2 separate regions of the Homo sapiens genome follow, and region 1 is linked to region 2. The links come from fine-mapping of genetic effects on gene expression. Tissue or cell type: whole blood. Region 2 holds a variant in brackets; the other region holds the start of a gene. All regions are shown on one strand. Distances are between the middles of the regions.

Evidence for each region. PIP is the estimated chance that this variant, and not a neighbour inherited with it, causes the effect.
Region 1: it holds the start of RAB21, and the variant in region 2 is fine-mapped to the expression of RAB21 in whole blood (TOPMed, PIP above 0.99). The same link has a PIP of 0.9 or more in blood mononuclear cells, fibroblasts and lung.

What each region holds. Positions count from the first base shown.
Region 1 is chr12:71,751,598-71,759,705 of GRCh38, forward strand. It overlaps RAB21 (RAB21, member RAS oncogene family), which reads left to right and starts at 3,266. Exons shown (of 7, transcript NM_014999.4): 1 at 3,266-3,691. The coding sequence starts at 3,533. RefSeq lists enhancers at 3,038-3,327, 3,968-4,157 and a silencer at 3,308-3,587.
Region 2 is chr12:71,787,936-71,796,043 of GRCh38, forward strand. It overlaps RAB21 (RAB21, member RAS oncogene family), which reads left to right. Exons shown (of 7, transcript NM_014999.4): 7 at 1-8,108. Among named protein-coding and RNA genes, the nearest start is that of RAB21, 37 kb to the left of the region's middle. The variant G/A (reference allele first, on the strand shown) is at 3,969.

The sequences.
Region 1 (8,108 bases), 36 kb before region 2:
AGGGGCTTCTTGTCTTTTCCAGCTCTGGTGGCTGTAAGCATTCCTTGGCTTATGGCTACATTGCTCCATAATCTGCCTCTATGGTCACACTGCCTTCTCCTCTTCTGGGTGTGAAGCATCTCTTTCTGCCTCTCTCTTATAAGGATACTTGTGATTGCAGTTAGGGCCCACCCAGATAATCTCCCCATCTCAAGATCCTTAACTTAAATCAAAAAGACCTGTTTCCCAAATAAGGTAACATCTACAGGCTCCGGAATCTAGGAGCTGATATCTTTAGGGGCCGTTATCAGCCTATTACAATTTACATCTATATTTACCCACTCTGTGCTCAAAAGTATGCCAACCTACTTATTGTAACCCATGAAAACTTGCACTACCTTCTTAAATGTCAACGTAAGCTAAATGTAAAAACTTATTTTAACTTCGAAAATTATTTTGGCTGAGTGTGGTGGCTTATACCTGTAATCCCAGCACTTTGGGAAGCTGAGGCTGGAGGATTGCTTGAGCCCAGGAGTTCAAGACCAGCCTGGGCAACACAGCAAGACACGCAAGATATCGTCTCTACAAAAAAAATTAAAAAATTAACCAGGTGTGGTGGCACACACCTGCAGTCCCAGCTACTCGGGAGGCTGAGGTGGGAGGATTGCTGGAGCCCAGGAGGTTGAGGTTGCAGTGAGCTGTGATTGTGGCACTGTACTCCAGCCTGGGCAGCAGAGTGAGATCCTGTCTCACAAAAAAATTATTTTGTTTTACAATAAAAAAATTTTTAATTGCTTTGATTTAGTGATAAATGCAAAGTAATGCATTTAGTTTCTAAGATGACCAAGCTGTTAAATAATCAAATGCACACAATTTGAAAAGTTGTTGAAAGGATTGGCTGTATCAAAAAGAAGAAAGGAGAAGGCTTAAAGGAAGAACACACAGCCTTCTTCATATGTTTATAGGGAATAGGGATTCGATATATAATGTATAAATATAAACAGAAATAATTAATTGCAGGTGAAGAGAGGCAGATTTCAATCCAATATGAGGAAGTGCTCAGAAAGAACAATGGAAGGTGCTCTCTCAAAATGAAGTTCTTTTCTAGTTCTGGAAGTGTCTATAAATGTGCAAAGACCCTAAGGGGAGGAATGTGGAGGAGAGAGTTGGAAAATATATCTTTAGATACAATCATGAGGATATTTTATAAAACATAGAGTCTCTTTAATGGTTGGTTCTAAACAAATCTAAAATATTATCCTTCTCCAATTCACTTTTCAAATGATAGCCAGAGTGGTCAAATCTGATTATGTCAGTCATCTTACGAAAATCCTTCATTTGCTTAAAGACCCTTTCAGTATTGATCCCCAACTTCCTCATGGTCTCTTCTGGAGTTTTTTTTTCCTCCCTAAATTCTAGTCACATTTACAGTTGCTCAACTTTAGATGCTCCTTCCTATCTAAAGCCATTGAACATGCTGTTATCTCTGTTTGCAGAGCTCTCCTGTCCTTCCTGACTAGGTTACTCTTACCCAAAGATAACTTTCTCCAGGGAAAGCTTCTCTAGCATGCTAAATCAGTTGGGTTCTCATATATGCTTGCAAGATACTCTGAACTGTTTCATCAAGATGAAAGCATTTATTGTACAATTGAGTATGTCTGTCTTCCCTGATAAAATGTAAGCTCTGTGAGGACAGAGACATTTTATCTTGTTGATCACAGTGCCTGGCATATGGTGGGCACATTTAAATATTTGTTGAATGAATTAACCGACTCTCTTTTTTTTTTTTTTTTTTTTTGAGACGGAGTCTTCCTCTGTCGCCAGGCTAGAGTGCAGTGGCGCGATCTCGGCTCACTGCCACCTCTGCCTCCCGGGTTCAAGCGCTTCCCCTGCCTCAGTCTCCCGAGTAGCTGGGATTATAGGCTTGTGCCACCATGCCCAGCTAATTTTTTGTATTTTAGTAGAGATGGGGTTTCACCATGTTGGCCAGGATGGTCTCGATCTCCTGACCTTGTGATCCGCCCGCCTCGGCCTCCCAAAGTGCTGGGATTACAGGCATGAGCCACCACGCCCGGCCTCTTTTTTTTTTTTTAACCTGGTTTGAAGTGTGAAAGAAGTTTGATTTTTAAAAAAATGTTTACCTGACACCAGGTTTCCAGTAAATTTTCAGAAATATTAGTATGATTTCTTGGAGGAGTATGGTTTCTTGGAGGCAGGCCGGGCGTGGTGGCTCACACCTATAATCCCAGCACTTTGGGAGGCCGAGGCAGGTGGATCACTTGAGGTCAGAGTTCAAGACCAGCCTGGCCAACATGGTGAAACCCTGTCTCCACTAAAAATACAAAAAGTAGCGGGGCGCGGTGGTGGGCGCCTATGGTCCCAGCTTCTCGGGAGGCTGAGGCAGGAGAATCACTTGAACCAGGAGGCAGAGACTGCAGTGAGCTGAGATCACGCCACTGCACTCCAGTCTGGGCGACAGAGCGATACTCCATCTCAAAACTAACAATACAAACAAACAAAAAAGAATGGGGATGCAGATGAGAAAAAACAAGCAATCATCGAACAAGCCACCTCAAGGTGGAGTACCATGGAACGTCAGAGGCTTCATGAAAGTCAGAAAAACTGAAGAGCACTTGGGGTTAGGAATTCAAAGGTGGGCAGCTCTTATACAGACCTTGCCCTCAACAAACCTATAGTCTAATGAGAGTCGATAAACACTTAGCAAAGTATTAATAATATCCATGGAGTGTGTAAAGCCCTAGTAAAGGAGGTATACTGGTGGTAAGAAATACCTAATTTTGTGAGGTGGGGGAATGGAAGGATGGGGGAAGGATTGGGTGGTCAGGGACGCGGTTTAAGCTGAGACTTGAAAGATGATGGAGTAGTTGACCAGGCGGTCAGAGGAACTTGGAAGCGCTATGATTCGGGATCCCACAGAGAGAGATTCAAGGGCACCTTGGCAGATATGGTTTACAGTGACCTCTGGTGTGACAGATCATTAGCATTGTGAACATGCAAAAACGATGAAGTTCTGCCCTTCATTTCACCAGAGCTGGGCTCGCCTCAAATTCCTGGTTCCTTATTCCCGCTGGCTCCCACCAACTGAAAAGCAGAGGTGGCTCGCAAGCGGCGGGGCTCTGCCCTAGATTGCCAGTAGGCGCTCGACTCACATCCAGCTCCACCCCGGGAGATGCCCCAGAAGCCCCGCCCACGTCCAGGCACGTTCTTCTGGGGCTAGTCGCAGGGGCCGCCCCGGCACCGGCGCTCACGTGACCCGAGGTGTGACGTAGGAGGAAGGAGACGCCATTAGAGGGAGGCAGAGAGGGATCGTTCTTCGCTTTTCCTCCGGTGCCTGACGTGGTGGGCTGGGGCCCTTCATTCTCGGACTTTCCCTCAGCCCTTCCAGGCCTCGCCCGAGGAGGGCGTGGGGACAGCGCCCGGGTCGGCGGGGCCGGGGCGGTGGGGGCTGAGCCGGCCGTGGCTGTGAAGGCGCTGCCGCGGCTGTCGGGAGGGCGGCGCGACACTCGGGCTCGGGCGGCCGGGAAGCGACGGGATGGCTGCGGCCGGCGGCGGCGGCGGCGGGGCGGCGGCGGCGGGCCGAGCCTACTCGTTCAAGGTGGTGCTGCTGGGGGAAGGCTGCGTGGGGAAGACGTCGCTGGTGCTGCGCTACTGCGAGAACAAGTTTAACGACAAGCACATCACCACTCTGCAGGTGCGGACCTCGGGGAGCGGGAGGGGGCGCCTCAGGGCCCCTACCCCTCCGGGGCTGGGGAAACTTTGCCGCCCTGGTCCCCTGGATGTAGGCTGGCAAATCTCAGGCCTGTCATCTCCGCCTTCGGTTTACCTTTCCGAATTCGCCCTGGGGAATCACCAGGTCGGGGCAGCCTGTAGACGCGAGGACAGGCTGTTGGGAGGGAAGTGGAAGGGCCCTGAAAAGTCCCCAGTGTTCCCCGTGGTGGCTGCGCACGTTGTGGTCTCCGTCCGTGGGCTGTTTTTTCCCATTTACTGCAGTTCCTGGGTCCCAGGTGTCAGTGTTGCAGTCTCCAAATGTTAGCTCCTTTTCTTTCTTTCAGAATTAGGAACTTAGCTGCGTATTTGATTTTGCGAATTAGGTGATTTGTAACTTCAGCGCTTACTGATGACTAAGTGTTTATGCAAGTTCCATTTTGTCCTGAGTAACAGGAATGGCAAAAGAGCCATCTCTGGAGGTTTTTTGAAATGACCGCTTGCCTAGGCGTGTTACGCAGTTTCATTGCAGCCTGCGTGGGTCTGACTTGCGGGTCACTCATATTCTGCGAGGTCGATTGACCCACGCTGAAACATCAAGTGAATACTGGCCAACAATTGGTCCCCAGACTAAAAGCCGCTGCTGTTACTCAGTTTCTTTACCTGTAAAATAAAAGGTCGGCTTTCTTCCACAGGTACATTGGAAAGGTGTTAAAATGTTATCATTGATTGAGAGTGAAGCCAGGCCTTTGAGGGAGTTGTACTCACCCCACCTCTCCCAGAGAAATCAGTTTTGATGTTATTAGGAGAAATTTATCCTACTAATTTGACTTACCAATTTGGTCAAAGGCAGTAAAGTCTAGTGGACTTTTGAGCCTGATTGTCCAGGTTCATGTCTCACCTCCATCCATTTAACTAGCTGTGTCATACTGGGTAAGTTACTTAACCTGTCTGTGCCTGTTTCTTCTGTTAAAATGGCCATAATAGTAGTATCTAGCTCATAGGGTTGTCAGGATAAATATACAGAAAAAGCACTGATGACCTGGTCCAGTGTAAGTTGTCTGCCTTTAATTACCGCCCCAACTTGCACAATAGGTCTTAATTAGTAAATGTGTAGTATGTGAGAACATCGACACTACTTAATAGAATGCGTAATCTCCTAATTGTTGTGACATTGGATGTTTGATGCTATTATTAAACTACTGAGTCTAGAATTTACAAGACGCTCTGGCTCTGATTCCATGTTCTATTTTTACTCCTCTGATTTTACTCGTATGTAAAGCATATCTGAAAAAGTGAGTGCCAGGAAACTGCATTTTTAAAAAATCCTTGTACCAGAACACTGACAAAATTTTAATAATGAATTGTTATTGTTCAGTGTCATTAGTGAGAGCCTGGTGTTTTAGATCAAGAAAATTCACTGGACAAATACCTAGGATCATTTGGAAGTTTAGAGATTTACTTAGGTAAAGTAGTAACAATAGCTAACATTTAGTGAGTTCTTACTGTGCTGATTATTTTGCTTGCTTTCTGTCTGCTTGCTTTAATTCTTATAACACCCTATGAAGTGGATAGTTTAGTGGATAGCCCTACAGCTGAGGAAAAACGTTTAGTTGAGTAATTTTGCTGGCAGTAATATTACCACAAGTCAATGGGGCAGGAGTGTCCAAGCTCAAATTTGAACCCCTGTCTGACTTCAGATTTTGAGCAATTAAATCACATTACCTCGGTATATTGATAAATAACCCATCTAGTGTTTTCCTTTATGCAAAGATCTAAGATAAAAGAAAACTATTGTAATTGAGGTCTCCACGTTTTTTTTCAAAAGATAACTTGAGTCTTGCCCTGTCGCCCAGGCTGAAGTGCAGCAATTTCCACTCACTGCAACCTCCACCTCCTGGGTCAAGTGATTCTCCTGCGTCAACCTCTCAAGTAGCTGGGATTACAGGCACACGCCACCACATCTGGCTAATTTTTTTGTATTTTTAGTAGAAACGGGGTTTCACCATGTTGTCCAGACAGGTCTCGAACTCCTGACCTCAGGTGATTTGCCCACCTTGGCCTCCCAAAGTGCTGGGATTACAGGGGTGAGCCACTGCACCTGGCCATACCCTTTCAACTTAAAAATTACACTTCCATTTTAAATTTCTAAAACATTCTTGAAACTGAAAGCAGAGTAAAGGTTTTTAAATATATGAAAAGCCACTGTACTCCACAGAGGGGAGGATGAAGTTATAGTAGATATCCAGTATTAATATCTGAATTATATTATAGAATTTAGGATTTTGTTGTACACCAATGTATGTAAACAGCAATGTGTCTAATCTCTTTCAGAGATACCAGTTAACCTCATCTTTCTTAACAATTTTTCAGAGGAATTTGATTTATGTGACTTGTAAGACACAACTTTGTATTCTTTTAATTTCCAAATGGAGAGGAAATCATGTCAGAAGATATGAGAGGAAGAGTTCACCTTTTTTCTCGTCAACAGAGTACCTGTCTATGTAAACTACTTTGTATTTTATAAAGTACATTCTCATACATTTCAAAGAATTGCAGGATTGACAGGAATTTAAGACAGTTATGTATGGATCACTATTTTGGTCTTCTAATGTTTAGTCAAGTGATTGTCCCCCTTTTTTTTTTTAACATCTTGGAGGTGAAATGAACTGGTATTATGGAAAGTGGAAAGCTCACTTTGTCCTAAGGTGTCCCATTTCATTTTTAAATTTTTTTTTTTTTCTTTTTGAGATGGAGTCTCACTCTATCACCCAGGCTGGAGTGGAGGGGTGCGATCTCGGCTCATTGCAACCTCTGCCTCCTGGATTCAAGTGGTTCTCCTGCCTCAGCCTCCCGAGTAGCTGGGACTACAGGCATGTGCCACCATGCCTGGCTAATTTTTGTATGTTTAGTAGCGATGGGATTTTGCCGTGTTGGCCAGGCTGGTCTCGAACTCCTGACCTCAGGTGATCCACCTGCCTCGGCCTCCCAAAGTGCTGGGATTACAGGTGTGAGCCACCACTTCCGGTCCTATTTTATTTTTAGTAGTTTTCAGTCCTAATTCTCCCCACTGAGTCTTGGTGTCTCATATGACATTCCTTCTGATAGTTGAAGATAGCTATCTTGTCTTCTCTTGGGTAAACAACTCTGGCTCCCTTAACTGGATCTCCAGTGACAGTGACATCGTTTTAAATCCTTTCACTTTTTTTTTTTTTGGAGGCAGAGTCTTGCTCTAGTGGTGATATCATAGCTGCCTGCAGCCTCCAACTCCTGGGTTCAAGTAATCCTTCCACCTCAGCCTCCAAGTAGCTGGGACCACAGGCGTGCGCCACCATGCTCGGCTAATTTTTTTTTTTTGGTAGAGTTGAGGTTTTGCTATGTTGCCCAGGCTGTTGTAGAACTCTGAGCTCAAGCAATCCTTCTGCTTTGGCCTCTTGAAATGCTGAAATTACAGGTATGAGCCACTGTGCCTGGCCCTTTCACTATTTTGAATCTCTTCTAGGCACTATGTAATCATTGTCCTTTCCTTAAAGTGTGATTCCTTGAGCTGTAGAAATAATTCCAGGTGTGGTGGTTTGAACTGAACAGAGAAGTGCAGGCTGTCACCTCTCCTGTTGAGAATCCTTTTCCAACACTGAAGTAGAAGAGATTCTCTGAGCTTTTAGGGAAGCTCTCAGAATTTCTCTTTGATAAATATTGAATTTGCTGTCAACTGAAACATCTTAGTCTTAATTGCTTCAAAAAAAGGCATTATTTGTATCTCTCAGATTCTCTTTTCTTTGGTATTGTAGTTAAGCTTTTTCTTTTGTTTCTAATATACTTGACCCATTAAGGTTGGCTTTGGTAGATTTGCTCCAATAGTTAAGCCTGTTAATGTCCTTTTTAATTTGGATTCTGTAATTCACAAAACACTGACTGGGCTCCTTTGGGCCAGGTACTGGGTTGGGTCCTGGACATGGCAAAGAATAAGGTGTGGAATCTACTGTCTGGATTAGCTACTTTTTAACTTTGTCATCTGAAAGTTAGGTAAGAATGCCTTTAATGTTCTCAACAGGTCATTATTAAAGACTATGAAAGAAAGCAGAGAGAGAGGGCCAAGTGCAAAGCTCTGCAGCAAGTTTTACTGTAGTCCAGTGATACATGACCAGAAGTGCAATTTTCTGTAGACATATAGAATCTTAGGGGCTTTTTTGGGCCATGCATGGGCCACAGGCCATCCCCTCCTCCTTCCCTTGAGTAAGAAACAGTTGTTAATGGAGTGCTATACATATTAATGATAATGGAAGACTGACTGCTATGGGCTACTACCTAGTGGACACAAATCCCTTAATAAAATGTAAACATTTACTCCAGCATTACAGTTCTCCTTTTTGCCCAAGCTACATCTGTCTTGCCCACAAGGT
Region 2 (8,108 bases):
CTGTTGTAGAAGTAGATAGGAAATAAGCTTTTCTCATTACAGTGAAATATGTTTTAAAAACTAGAGTAGCTGGGCACAGAGGCATGCATTTGTAGGGCCAGCTACTTGGGAGAGTGAGGCAGGAGGATCACTTGAGGCCAGGATTTCAAATCCAGCCTAGGTAACACTGAGACCTCCATCTCGTAAAAGGCACAAAAACTAGTTAGAGATGAAATTGAGCTTTATTTTAAAAAAACGTTCTAAAGCCTGATAATTGGAGAGCTATACTTCAGCTTTTCATCCTACTTTAATGAAACAGCTAGATAGGAACCTCTGCTCCAGAATTGCCAGATAATTATTGGTGGGTCATAACTATTCTTCATATTTTTTTTTTCTTTTTTCTCCTTTGGTTTCTGTGTTATCTTTCTTAACCTCACGTATTTCTTTATCCTTTTTAGTGGGGGCCTGTAATTGAGGCTAATTCAATAGCAACAATAGACAACATGATATGGCTGCTGTCACTTTGAAACCCAAAAGGTCTTTGGGTAGGAATAGAGTAATGAAAGAGGACCAGTCAACTTCAGTATATATACAAAGGAAAGACAAAGAGATGATAAACCAAGGCTGAGGAAATTTTTCTGATGCTTTCTTCATTTCTCTAATATACCTTTTGCATTCTTTTTCTGATAATTGTGCTATTAGGCAGAAGACACAAGTTACCACGTTGTGTATTAAAAGCAGTAGGTAGGTTGTGCCAGTATTTTTTCAGCCAGTAAGCATATACAGTTAACTTATATAATTAAAAATTGGTTTAAGATAGTGATTAAAAATACCTGAATATTATGTTAAAAGTATACAATCATTGTTTCTGTAATGATGATGGGTATTCTGCTTCTTGTTTTTCATTGTAATTACAGGGGAAGATTGTTTTTGAAAATGTATATTGCCATGCTTTTGGGGTAAGCAGTAATGTGAAAAGAAAAAAGCATTATGTTATTGTATGAAATATAAGTGTTCAGATTTGTTTTGTCTGGGGTGTTGCCTAAGAATACCCTAAAGCTATGGCTGTTACTGCATTGAAATCTTTTTTTTTTTTAATAGTAGCCATATGTTATTAGTGGAGTACTTTATATTTGACATTAAAGTGAAGAAGAAGAGTAGTACTTCACTTTTAGGTTTTTAGTAGTGAAAGATAAAATTGGAAAAATAGGGAAAGAGCATAGGGAGGAATAGAATGGAAGTCAAGTAAATAAAAAACTACAACCTGACAGTTTTTTAAATCACTTTGAAAAGTACATTACTTTTATCAAAGAGTTTCTAATTAAGGCAAACTATGCATTATGCCAAATATTAAGAACATTTTAAAAATGGATTGTGATACTGTTTATTTCTTTAATTATATAATTTGCAATTTTCTGTATTATAAGTGCTACCAGGATTCTAGATAGTTGATCTTACATATTCAGATAGTATAGTTTACTCTTATAATTACCCGTTACGTTATCTCTAAAAGTAGTTTGATCTGTGCCTTTAACTTTTAGAATTCATCTTTTGACTTGTTTGCCACTGTAGAGTTTTCAGTTTTCTCTGTAGATTCAGTGTGACAAAGAGGGAATACATAATTTGTGACCATTTAAGATGCTGATATTTTCTGGAAAAGGATATAGATAGTAGTAGTGACCCGCAGGAGCCTCACAATAATGTCTAAAGATATAAACTGAGTAGATCCCTAAGTACTCTTCTCTAAATTATAAAATGCATTACCTAGGCTTTAATAGTTAAAAGCTGGAATTTATTGAACCGCATCTACTTGATTTCATAATATGCATTGATTTTAGTATGTTGCTGTTCTGTTATCTGTAATCAACTATAACAGAGTAATATATTTGGTGTTCTGGACCAAAATTCGTGCTACACATATGTCTGATGGCCTTTACCTTTTCAAGAAAACAGTTGCAATTTTGAGCAAAATTTTCCTAGTTGTAATATTTTAATAGTGTTATGTATTGGAAAAAATTTAGAAATACTCCTAAGAGTTTTCAATTTCAAGCAGAAATGCTTCTCTTCTAAATAAATACCACTTAATTGATAGACCTTTAGCAGTTCTTGTGCTATCTAGGATTTATACATTTTTGCTTTTCTGGAAAACTGCTTTGGCGCATTAACCTTTCTACTGCAACATTTTCTCTTCAGTAGATATATGAGTAAACATGATGAGTTAATGTTACACAGCATACCCAGTTAGGTCTCTTATTCTTAAAGCATCTTTCTTTAGAAGTCTGCACATATTTTCAAATGCATCATATTAAAGGCACAAGTCAAGAGGAGGTGGAGTTGCCTACTTCAGTGGCCTTTATTCCCACTATACCAGTTCTCAGTCTTGATTTTGATACTTTCTGGCAACTGTATCATCTCTTCACTATCACGTATTTTAAGAAAAAGCTAAGGTGATTTCTTTACATTTGAACATGTGTAGATCAATGAGAGAATGGTGAGGGATAGCAAGGATAAAGTATAATGTTGAAAAGTAGAAAGAAGTGGTATCTGCTAAACTCTAGCTTTAGTAGCAAGCTATTTTAAGGAAATCATTGTATGTGGTACTTCCTAGAAATATGAAAGTTCCTCATTTTGTATTTAATTATGTAAGAAAATGTTCTAGGAAAAGAATAAAAAACATATATTGTCAAAGTGCCCTTTGGTAGTGCTCCCAAATGGTAGTAACTATTGGTCTCTAGTATATACTCCTCAAATATCTTTTTGCTATGTATTAATATATCTATATGTTTACATATAGAAATACATAGTGTTGTGGGTTTTAAATTTTCACATAAATTGTGTCTTACCCATGTGTTTTGCCATTTGCCTTTTCTCTTGCCAACGTGTCTAGGAGCTCTTTGGTAAATACAGACTTTTTCATTTTATTTCCTCCCACATTTCTATGGATGTGTCTTGCCTTTTTCTTTTTTTTTTCTTTCTTTTTTTCTTTTTTAAAATAGCCTCTGACTCCATGAAACCTGAAAAGGAATCTGGTCTGTTAGGTGGATTTCATTAGTATCCAAATTTATTTATTTTTTTATTTCATTTTTTTGAGACAGTCTCGCTGTGTCACCCAGGCTGGAGTGTGGTGGCTCAGTGATAGTTCACTGCATCCTTGAACTCATGGACTCAAGCAATCCTCTTGCCTCAGCCTTCTGAGTAGCTGGGACTACATGTGTAAGCCACCATGCCTGGCTAATTTTTGTATTTTTCATTTTTAGTAGAGATGGGAAGTCTTGCTGTGTTGCCCAGGCTGGTCTTGAACTCCTGGCCTCAACCATTCCTCCCACTTCAGCCTCCCAAAGTACTGAGATTACAGATGTGAGCCACTAGGCCCAGTCAGTATCATAGAATTTAAATGCAAGCCAATGCTTAGACAGAATCAGGGTCTGCTTTAAGCATGTGAATCAGGAAACTAGAAGGCCTCTTGTAATGTATTTGAAGTTCATTACTTTTGGCTGACGGTTGACTGCTTAGTGTATAAAATCTAGGAGTTAACTTTAGCAGATTCTTTTATCAGAATACGTTTTTTATTGGAGGGAAGAAGGAAAAAGAGGAAAGGTATAACTGATGGGGAAAAGTACAAGATAAACTAAAACAAGTCTTTATACAACTCTGACAGCAACTCCCATAACAGGACATGATGCTACCAAAAATTCAAACTTGTATTTGATCTGTGCCTTTAATATAGAGTAAAAACAAAAGTTCCTTTTTAGATCTCCCTTCCCTCATCATCCCACATCCCTTTTTAGAGGTAACCATTGTTAACAGTTTGGTTTGTGTCTTTATTATGCAGTTTTATATTTATATTTGGCCTTTGTAAATTTTCCATTCCCTGAATGGAACTTCTACCCTATATCAAATTCCACCCTCAACTGACCAATTTACCAAGGCCAACTAGAATCATACTTCTTTTTCTGGAAGTTTTTTTTGAGACAGGGTCTTGCTTTGCC[G/A]CACAGACTAGAATGCAGTAGCATGATCATAGCTCATTGCAGCCTCAAACTCCTGGGCTTAAGCAATCCTCCCACCTCAGACTTCGAAGTAGCTGGTATTACAGGTGCATAACACCACCACCCACGCCTGGCTAATTGTTTTGTTTTTTTTGTGGAGATGGCTCTCACTTTGTTGCCCAGGCTGGTTTTTGAACTAGTTTCAAAGTGATCCTCCTGCCTTGGCCTCTCAAAGTACTAGGATAACAGTCATGAGCCACCATGCCCACCCTAGAATCATACTCTTTTAAAGCAAGTTAAATCAGCAGTAATAGTTCTGGAACTAGAAGTTAACTACTTACTGGACTTTTGAGATGTAAGTTTACCATACATCAAGCTTAAAAACTTGTAGCGTTCTGGGAAAGTCAAGTCAAACTCTTGAATGCTATCCTCTGTGGAAATAGGGTTGGGAAAGAGCAATGTACAAGTCCAAGCTCCTTAATACACATAAAACTCTGGGTTGGGCTCATCCTCTTGGTGTATTTTCCTACTTGGAGAGCATTACAGTGTCCAACAATTTATAGGAGCTTCTCTGCACTGTCAAGACTATAGCTTAGCATATGTGTGCTATGACACAAGGTTAAACGTGTGCCCCAGAACAAATGCATTTATTCATGTTTGACTTTAAATGAAAATTCAGAAAGCAGGTTAAGCATATATGTGAGTTTAATAATTGTTTCTGTATTTTAAAAAATTTTAAAACATTCAGCTTTTTATGACTTTGGTTAGTTTCACTCATTTGTTGAGTGCCTTCTGTATGCCCAGTGCACAAACTGCTATGTGCCCAGTGTACATACATGGGAGAACCAGATAGCCAAAGTGCCTTCCTTTATCGTTGGAACCTAGAGATGAGCTGATACCTGTTGCACATAGTCCAAGATATAAGTAATTTATCTGGGGATATAAGGTCACCTGTGCACACATGTTCACATTCTGTGTTTGATCAGATATGTACCTGCCAAACTTTTGGAGTGAGATAATTAGAATGACAGTAGTTGAAGCTGACAGTGAATTTGAGGTAAAGCTGGAAAGAATGTTTTTGAATTTTGCAAATAATACATTTTCAAGCCAGATTAAAATTGAATAACTTACTTTCTAGCTTCAAGGGGGTAATTAAGTGATCCTCTAACCCAAATTGCTTTTCCAAATTTTGTGGTAGCAGTGAATAAACTGATGCCTCCTGCTTATTTAGACAGCAGCCATTTTTGTTTGGTTTGGTTTGGTTTTGCGGTGATTTTTTTTAACCTAGAAAAAATACAATTTAAAAAGCAATCATGTTGTTTTCTTTGCCTTTGACAGATGTGGCCTTGTCACCACACAGTAAGCCAGAACACAATCCATTCCTGAGTCATAGTAGGATAGTTTGTGTAATTCTAAATGCACTCTCCAGTTTAAGAGTGTGGGTCCCTTTTTTTCTATCTGAAATTGAAGATACAGGTCAGAAAGATGGTTTAATGAATATGAATTTTCTAAACATCTTTTCAGTGTCTTTTAAGGATATTTTTGATATTACAATATAATAAAGTTAAATCATCTAGTCCTCCTGGCCCTTCTGGTTAGAAAATAGAGCGAAATCATCCGTTTAAACACACACACACAAACTATCCCATTAGTTGGTTATACACAAGTTACTTTCATTCTTACTAGTTCACAAAAGGTTAGTAAATTTAGTGATTTAATGAGTTCTTCAAAACATAAAAGTCCTGTAAAGGAAAAGCTAGAGGATGTGAGAGGAGTAATTCATCCCCATCAAAAGATTTTAGCCAAAAGTAGTGGCATAAGAAATTTATTTATGCGAAAGACATAATTTTGGGTGAACTTTCTTGAAGATGGTCAGAAAGGGCATTGTTAAAGGAAGGAGATGGTAGATTTTGGGTTCTGGGTTCTAGGTTCTAGGCTAATAATTTACTACTTTGGTATGTTGCCTTGAGGCTGACATTTGCTGCTCTGCTAAGACTAAAGCTGGCCCTTTCCAATCAAAAGTGTTAAAAGCTGGCTGGGAGCCATGGCTCATGCCTGTAATCCAGCACTTTGGGAGGCTGAGGTGGGTGGATGGATCCCTTAAACCCAGGAATTCAAGACCAGTGTAGACAACATGGCGAAACCCCATCTCTATCCAAAAATATACAAAAATTAGCCAGGTGTGGTGGTGTGTGCCTGTAGTCTCAGCTACTCAGGAGGCTGAGATGGGAGGATTGCTTGAGCCTGGGAGTTAGAGGATGCAATGAGCTGAGGTCGCACCACTGCACTCCAGCCTGGACGACAGAGTGAGGCCCTGTCTCAAAAAAAGAAAAAAGAAAAAAAAAAGTTAAAAGTTGTGGCATGGTGGCTCACGCCTGTAATCCCAGCACTTTTGGAGGCTAAGGCAGGTGGACCACCTGAGGTCAGGAGTTCGAGACCAGCCTGGCCAACATGGTGAAACCCTGTCTCTACTAAAAACAAAACAAAACAAAACCATATATATATTATATATATATATATATATATATTTTTTTTTTTTTTTTTTTTTTTTTTTTTGAGACGGAGTCTCGCTCTGTCCCAGGCCAGAGTGCAGTGGCGCTATCTCGGCTCACTGCAAGCTCCGGCTCCCGAGTTCACACCATTCTCCTGCCTCAGCCTCCCGAGTAGCTGGGACTACAGGCGCCCGCCACCACGCCTGGCTAATTTTTTGTATTTTTTTGGTAGAGATGGGGTTTCACCGTGTTAGCCAGGATGGTCTCTATCTCCTGACCTTGTTATCCGCCCGCCTCGGCCTCCCAAAGTGCTGGGATTACAAGCGTGAGCCACCGAGCCCAGCTATATTTATAAATTTATATATATTTCATATATATATTATATATATATAAAATTAACCGGGCATGGTAGTGAGCCCCTGTAATCCCAGCTACTTGGGAGGCTGAGGCAGGAGAATTGCTTGAACCCAGGAGACGGAGGTTGCAGTGAGCAGACCTGGTGCCACTGGACTCCAGCCTCGGTGACAGAGTGAGACTCTGTCTCAAAAAAAAAGTTAAAAGTTGTTAACTAGATGTCGAATTATTTTCATAGTAATCACCATGTGTAAGCAATTCTCATCTGTGGAATGTTTGACAGGGATAAGATTATTGAAAATTGGGGGGAATTTTCTTAAATATGGAACTAAGAGCTAAAGAGTTCAATGATGATTAAGACCACTAGTCTGGCAAGTGACTTTTATTTGTCCTTTTCTATTGATAATGAATTCTAGGAATATGGATGGATTTCATTAGAGAAATAAAAATGAGCAAGATTTGTGATTCAGAATATTAAAAGTTAAGAATCCATGAATAGCCCCTTAAAAATATTGTCAAAGCATCATGGTATTTGTAGTGGTGCTTAAAAAAGAAGCAGCAGCAGCTGTTCTAAGCCAAGCACTGCTTGAAAACAAAACAAAACAGAACAAAACCTTATATTTAATAAAATGGAGAAATTTGGGAATGTCCCTAGCGTAATAATGCCTTCTACTGACATTTAAAGTCAGCTTAAACATCATTAGGGAAGACTATGACTGTTTCTATGACCTCTAGTCACAAATTTAACTAATTTAAGGTTAACTAATACCTCTTTCAGAGTTGGGCAAAAGAAGAAAAAAAAAGCCTTTATTTGTGATCAGTAAATTATAAATTACACAGAAGCTTCCAGCTACCTGGTATTTGCATGAAGAATTCTAAATTTTTTATATGCCATAATTTTTAGTAATGCTGTCCTTGAATTCACTTACATCTCTGCTCTGGTTTTTTGAAGCTCATTAGGATGATACCTGTCATCTCTTGGAAACACTGGAACTAGAGAACTGGAGGTGTTCACCCCCATTTTTTGCTACATTGTTGAAAACTGAGTAGAATTTTGTGTCCAAAAATCCTTAGTCTGTGATGGAATTTTTTAAAGTATATGTGAAGTTTTTTACTTCTTCAGTTTTTCAAGATAATTTTGCTGTTTTTGCTTTTTATTTATTTGCAACTAGAAATTGCATGTGCCAGTTACTTAATTTAATACATCTAATGGGAGATTCAAAGCAAACCATTAAAACTACCATATAAACTCAAATGAAATTTTATGACATTCTAATGTACATACTCGCCAAGAAAT